Linked DNA regions of Homo sapiens. The protein of the gene in region 2 purifies or fractionates together with the protein of the main gene of each other region. This does not show direct contact. Each region holds a gene or a part of one and is shown on either strand. Other genes may lie near its edges. The genes, in order: ITM2B and PPP1R3F.

Region 1 (3,646 bases), on a different chromosome or scaffold from region 2:
TCTAAGCACCGAGTTTGGCTCTGAGTTTCCCAGCAACCAAGGCAAAAGGGAAGCAAATGAATTCTTTAGATGTACTACCTAATATTAACATGTATCCTATGTGAAAAAAATTTTCCTAACACTAAATTTTAAAATACTTAGATAAGAAGTACTAGATATGACATAATGCTTTTAACAGCACTTTACAAAAGCTGAAGAAACATTTCTGGCTCATTTTTATTTCTATCAATCCTCAACAAAAGTCAAGAGAATAATATCATGCCATGGTTATACAAAGACATTTCTATGGGGAGCTAAAGGAAGGCACTCATAATTTTTTAGAGTGTCAGCTAGCTGCAGGGCTAGAATCTAGGGACTCATTCCAGAGACATGAAGGATTCTCAAATTTCACAGGCTCATCTTCCTGGATGCCTCAGCAGTGTTTCTGACAGAACTTGGGTTATCAGATAATTAGGGGTTAAATAAAGTGTAATGTTCCCTGGAGTTGATTAAAACTAGATAAGTTGTAGCTGTTACACTAGTATTTGGCTAATTATGTTTTAAGAAATGTTCTAAGAACTTGCCGTATTCATACCCAAATGGAAAACTATTCCTGCATCTTAGTCTGAAGGCTTAATGGATATATTTATCCCTGACATTCTGAAAGCTCTTCTCTCTCCTTTCATGCTTCCCAGCAGGGGCATAATTGGCAAATCAAGAAGGGCAGTAATTTTTTGTGCAGGACTCCCGGACTTTTAAGACATTTAGCATCCTGCCTGGCCTCATCTACTAAATACAAATGGCATCCTCTAGTCCTGTGACAATCAAAAATCCCCCCTACATTTTAAAATGTAGTGCCAATCCCTTTTGATAATCACTGGGCCTTAAAAGAATGTTGGTATGTTTTAAATGTGGAAAACCATCTGGCCCAAAAATACTATCCTAGAAGAAGGTGGCATTATGGAAGAAGACATAATCTTGGCTTGAAACATTTGTGGATATATATACACTTCTGTCATATGAAAATCTTAATATGGCCCCCACAGAACATTTTACTTAAAATGAGGCTCTAACTTTGAACAACAAGCCCATCAAGATGAAATAGCCTCAAAGTATAACCCTTACTAGCTGAACTCCATTTCATGGAGTTAATCCATGAAATGTAGCTCATTCATTCAACAAACATTAATTTCCATCTGAATAATGAAGATTGTCTGCCCAAAAAAACCCCCTTTGGTTTTAGTGAAGTAGATACCGTATTTCCTTTTTTTCTAGCTATAGTTACCAGATGTTTATTCCTTCCTTCAGTGTCAAGAAAACCTATTATGTGCCAAATACTGAGGACACAGTATGAGCATTTTGCTAATAGTCTAGAGGAGGACTTCATGAAGACAGGTGATGAAGTATCATGAAAGGTATGAGAAATAGAGAGCTATGGTGGCATCTCTGAGGAAACTTTTAGTCTGAGATCTGAAAGATGAGTAAGAGTTAACTTTTCTTTGTGGAGGGCAGGGGGTAGAGTGGGGACAGAGACAACTGTTTCAGGCAGGGCTGCAAGCTTATATGAGGCCAAAACTAAAAGGCTAGGATGCAAACAGAGAAATGGTGAGAGAAGTCTAGTGAGGGCAGGATTTTAGGGCTTGAAAAAAGGATTTTCTCTTAAGTGCAGCAGGACACCATCACTGAATCTTATATTCAAGGCAACTCACTCAGACCCATGGGGATGAGATCTGAGGAGAAAGTCAGACAACTGGTTGGGAAATATAATACCCAGAATAAAAATGACAGTGGGCAAGACTAGGGTGGTACGGGAAGGAATCATTCATTCATTCAATAAATAAGAGCTGCAACTATGTGTCAGGTGCCCTACTAACGTATTGAGCAGTCTAGTGGTGGAAATCTATTAACCAAACAAGCAACAAGGACAAAATATAAAATATTAATTATATTCAAGTCACAAAAAAGAGACAGATGATGCTATGAGACTGAGAAACAAGAGAAGCCTTTCCTAATGGTTCAGGAAAATCTTCTCTTGAGGAAGGGTCACCTGAACTAAATTCTGAAGGTTGAGTGGAAGCTAACTGAAGGGTGTCGGGTGAGGAGATGGAAATAATCTTCAGGAAGTAAGAATAGCATTTACCAAGAAACAGTAAGTCAGGCAATGTGGTAGGACACTAGGAGCAAAGAGGGGTGTGATTAAGATGAAGCTGGAGAGTGGGTTGGGACTGGACTGTGCAGCATTAAGTATTTTGGTCTTTATCCTAAGAACCAGGGGAAGCCAGGAAAGTGTTTTAAGCTGGGGTGTGACAATGAAACCATCAAGTTCGTGTTTTGGAAAGATTGTTGTGGCTTACGGGTGGGTGTGGGGAAGCAGAGAGAACCACTAGAGCAGAACAGCAGGAAGCTGCTAGGAGGTGGAGGACACAGTGACTGTGAAGACTGTGGGGTTTCTGGCTTGGGTTTCTTAAATATCCTCCATTTGCGACGGGGATAAGACCACACTGTTTGGAAAGAAGAAGGCGTTTGCATCTGCTTAGTCACTAGGGCAAGAACTAGGTCATTTTGTGTCACACATTATTGTATCGCACGTTAAACTGTTGGGGAATGGGACTGAGGAAGGAGGATGGTAGAAGGGCGGGAACATTTACTTTTTACCTTCAAAAACTGTATTATTTGATATTTTTACAATGAAAATATAAACACAAATGCAAGCTTAAAAATCAGATACAGAAGTCCCATCAAATTATTTTAAGTGGGAGGAAGCTAGGATTATCTTGTTTTATACCACTTAGGTCTCAATTTTGACCCCTAAGCCCACTCCCACTCATCCTGCTTCTCAGAACCAATCTGCAATAGGTGGCTGGAAGATTAAAAGTGTGGAATCTACAACCCATACATGTGTGCTATCAGGAAATAATTTATGGCCTCAAAATTCAGTAAATATTTCAAAAAAAATCTTAAATTGTGCTTAATTTTTTCAGTAAGATAAAAGCCTAAAATGATCAATAGAGAGCTGAGACTAAATCATGCTTCTTCCTCAAAAAAGCATTAGCCACAAAGACTCAGAAAGAAGAACGCTAGCAATAACTTTGGACAAGATATTGAACGAACTGATGGCTGTGTAGCTTTGTGGAAATGAAGAAATGTTCTTTTTCTAAATAGATACACATGAAGTCCTTATCTAGGAACCTAAGTCCCAAAGAGTTAAACATGCAAAGATTAGTGTGCAATAGAGTAGGATTTATATAACTCTGGGCAACAAACTCTTTGCTAGGTGGAAGAGAAGATGTCTAGTAAACTACTAAATGTTCACTTAGCAGAATCTTAGAGATTCTGCCCATATTAATTCATAACCACATTCAAACATAGAATCTAGACCTTTTCTATTCAATAATCCATTTGCCTTTTCATTTGCATTATTAATCAGCCTTTAAGTTTTACACTCCTACTTCTATTATTCGAGATAAACAACATTTAGGACACTGTGTACATTTTTTTTTCTTGCTTCTCACTAATATGGGTGTGGAATCTAAAAAGGGATACAGGGAAAGCAGAAGTGAACAATTACACATTACAAAACAAGATCAGTGTTTGCTTGCTAACATATAGCAGTGATAGGTTTCAAAAAAGGCACTGTCAACAACTGTACAGAGCTGTATGAAGCATT
Region 2 (3,820 bases):
TGTTCTTATTCTGAAAATGAGTATCAAGTGTCTACAGATTAAGGTAAATGAGGGAAGCATTGACTAAAACCTGAGAGGAGCTGGGGCGAATGCCCACACCTTTTTCTTCCTAAGAGGCAATGTGACATTCTTGATACTTCTGACAATGGTTGAAAAATTTTTTTTTTTGAGATGGAGTCTCGTTCTGTCGCCAGGCTGGAGTGCAATAGCATGATCTCGGCTCACTGCAACCTCTGCCTCCCAGGTTCAAGTGATTCTCCTGCCTCAGCCTCTCAAGTATCAGGGATTACAGGTACCCACCATCACAGCCAGCTAATTTTTGTATTTTTAATAGAGACGGGGTTTCGCCATGTTGGCCAGGCTGGTCTCAAACTCCTGACCTCAGGTGATCCACCCTCCTCGGCCTCCCAATGTGCTGGGGTTACAGGCATGAGCCACCGTGCCCGGCCTGGTTGAAACTTTTTGAAAACCCATAACCAATTACCTTCACAGAAACGAGTATCACCATCTGACCCATACATAGTACCTACTATGGCATTACACACTGTTCTAAGTGCTTCACATTTTTTTAAAGAAGTTTTTGGGGTTTTTTGGTTTTTGTTTTTGTTTTTTTGTATTTTGTTTTTAGAGATGGGGTCTTCCTACGTTGACCAGGCTGGTCGTGAACTCCTGGACTCAAGCGATCCTCCCATCTCAGCCTCCCGAAGTCCTAGTACTACAGGCATGAGCCACGGTGCCTGGGCAACATGTGTTAATTCAATCCTCACAATCACCCTATGAGACAGGTACTTGTAATCCTCTGAAGCAGGCAGTACTATTGTCTCCATTTTACAGAGGATAAAACAGAGGCTGAGTAAATGGCTCAAGGTCATACACTTCACATCACAACCCAGGCCTTTTGGCTCTTACCCAGTCAGCTGCTGCTTCTTGGATGAGGGAGACTGGGGTCTTACCCAACCCATCTCCATCCTTTCTAGAAGTAGATAGAGGGAGGCATCAATACTAGACAAGATCCCTCCCTCCTCCTTCATGCAGGCTTTTCTTTGGACCTGCCTTTGCCCACATATTCATTCCCCATTTCCCTACCTCCATGGGCCTGGGACATGCGTGGCTAGGAGGCCACTAGACACAGAATGGCTGCAAGAACTGCTTTCTATAAACACCCTCGGGGAGAACATTTGAACCATATATACGGATCTAGAGTCTAGAAGGGACCGTCTGTCTTTCTCTACTGTCTAGGACTCACAAATCCCACCAGAGGTACTTGAATCAGAATACTACAGGGCCTAGGGTGGGTGACTCTGGGAGCCCAGCTGCCACCTCCCACACATCACAGATGAGAAAGAGAGATTCAGAGCAAACCAGCTTGGTCTCACACCAATCCCCTCCGTGGTCCTAAAATCCAGGTCTTTGGACTTTTGTTTCAACACAATTTCTGCCAGGCTGCACTAACTTACTTCTTTTTGTTACCATAGTCCTTCATGACAGAAAACATCCTCCTCCTAGGATCTTCTAAACCAAGCCTCTTCAAGAAGGCCCACAGACAGACAGAAAGCCAGCCCTCCCACCTGTGCGCAGTAGCAGGCAAGCCTTCTCCTCCATCTGGCCTAGTCCGGACATATATTACAAACAGGCTTCTAAAAGCCACTGCAGTCATAGATGTGAGACAGAAAAAGGAGAACACTCAGGAATCAGCTAGCCAGCAGGTAAAGGACTCCACAATTCAGTTGGAGGAAGGAGAAAGAAAAACAAATACACAATCAATCCTTCAGCCCCCAGAGCACCCTTTCCATGGCTGAGGAGGGCGAGAACATCCAAAAAGCAGGTCACGCCATTGAGCCAATCCCAAGATCCACAACATCGACAGAAGCAAACAAGTCGTTCTCCAAAGTCAGATATGAAAGCAGAAAGCACAAGCATGTATTGTTCACCTCCTCCACCATGGGCCCCTCTCATTGACACACCAAGGCATTTGAAAACCTTCACATCTATCCTTCAAAACAACACCCTTCCTTTTTACAAATGCAAAAACTAAAACTCAAGGAACTGCATCTCTACACTCACTGACTACACAACCACGCTGGTAACAAACACTCCAGGAGGGCTCCACTTTGAAGAGAGTTTGAAATTGTGGGCTTAAAAAGAAACAAGTTATCTTTGAACCGTCTTTCACAGTAAAAACTCAAGGGCAGCTATGACTTCAATCAACATGAGGATAGTAAGAGAAATCAAGTACAAATGTATACTGACTCACTGATCGGTAACAGAGAAGAGGGGTTCTTAGAAAAATGGGGAGGGAGAAGATTAAGAACAAAACTGTACCTGCAGTATGCCTGCTCGTTTTCAAGAAGGAAACCTGTTCTTTTGGCACCAGCCCCACAAGTACCACGTGGCATCCCCTCAAGGGCAGTGAGCCATAGGGGCCAGGGCACACAGATCTGGAAAATCTTGGACATGCATCATTTGGGTGCTAGTGAGCACTAGTCAAGCTGGTGTCGACTAAAAGGGGCCATCTCAGGCCTGCACGCCAGTCTCCTGGGCGTGCAAATTCCTCCGGCCATCAGGAAACACAATGGCTGCCAAGCTGATAGGCCCCGAGGAGACCAGAGGGTGAGGATTTGGAAAGAGGTGGTGTTGGCCCCGGCCTAGGCCAGCCAAGAAAGCCAAGAAAGGTGATTCGCCAGTCACAGAGTAAGCGAGCGGGTGAGGGCTGACAAGCCCTGTGGAGAAAAGCAAAGCAGACTTTCAGAGCAGTCACAGACTGCCATTGCCACCACCACCCGAGTCCTCTGGAGCACCCCCAGCATTCATGTTTTCAAAGAATTTTGCCAGCCCAAAGTGGGTCAGGCACTGAAACCCAAAGGGAAACTCAGCAGACCCCGGCTCCCATGTAGTCAACCTGAAGATAACGCTGACTTTCCGGGGGGATGAGTGGCTTCAGAAACCTGCCCCACGATACTCAGAATTGCAGTTACCCTGAGCCATCTGCTTTCTGAAAAGAACAGGGTTTGAAGGTGGCTGTGAAAGCCACCAAGTTATGTGGGGCACTGCTTTGCCTTCCCCAACAAGTGTGTCAGCCTCAACTCTGGGACTTGCGGGTGATCCAGTGGGGTAGAGGGAGAGCAGTTTCTCGTGCCATGAGCTTCTTCAACAGCCATGACTTCATTCTTTGGCCACGACCCATAGTAAGAAATCCATTCTACATCATAACCCAGCACACCCACACGTGTAAACAGACATATAAATAACTGAAAAATGGTTGTTCTTCGAGTGAAACAATACTTACCTTTACTGCATGTGGTGATACACTGGCATTTCTTATGCTATTTCCTTTTTCTTTTTAATGCTTGTTGAAACCCAGTAAATTGATTTCACAACTCAATAAAGGGTTAGGATATGCAATTTTGAACAATTCCAGCTCTGCCACCTATCAGCTGTGTGACCTGGGGCAAGTTACTTAACCTCTCTGTGCCTCAGTTACCTCATCTCTAAGGAGGGGATAATAATACCTACATCAGTGAGTTGTTCAGCAGATCAAAGAAATATTTGAAAAGTACCTATAAAGCACTTAACAGTAACCCCCTCCAAATTTCCATTGAGGGAAACTGAAGCTCTGAAAGGAAAGCAACTTGCCCAGTGTTGCCCTGCTGGTAAAATGCATCACCCAGCCTGGTACAGTAGCTAAGAGCTGGAGCACTAGAGCAGGACCACACAGGCTCAGATCCCAGCTCTGCCACTTTCTTAGCACGTGGCCTCAGGCCCATGTCCTTAACCATAATGCCCTACCAAGTTTTCTGTGGCATAAAAGAGGATCACGTTC

What was found.
Region 1: the proteins of PPP1R3F (region 2) and ITM2B purify together in Homo sapiens (co-immunoprecipitation; one large-scale study listed by IntAct). This does not show direct contact.

The regions. Positions count from the first base shown.
Region 1 is NC_000013.11:48,264,175-48,267,820, reverse strand, and holds part of ITM2B (integral membrane protein 2B), read right to left. Parts: 3' UTR 1-3,646. UniProt on the Homo sapiens protein: Plays a regulatory role in the processing of the amyloid-beta A4 precursor protein (APP) and acts as an inhibitor of the amyloid-beta peptide aggregation and fibrils deposition. Plays a role in the induction of neurite outgrowth.
Region 2 is NC_000023.11:49,276,031-49,279,850, reverse strand, and holds part of PPP1R3F (protein phosphatase 1 regulatory subunit 3F), read right to left. Parts: exon of another isoform or gene 2,457-3,820; coding exon of another isoform or gene 2,323-2,456; intron 1-2,322.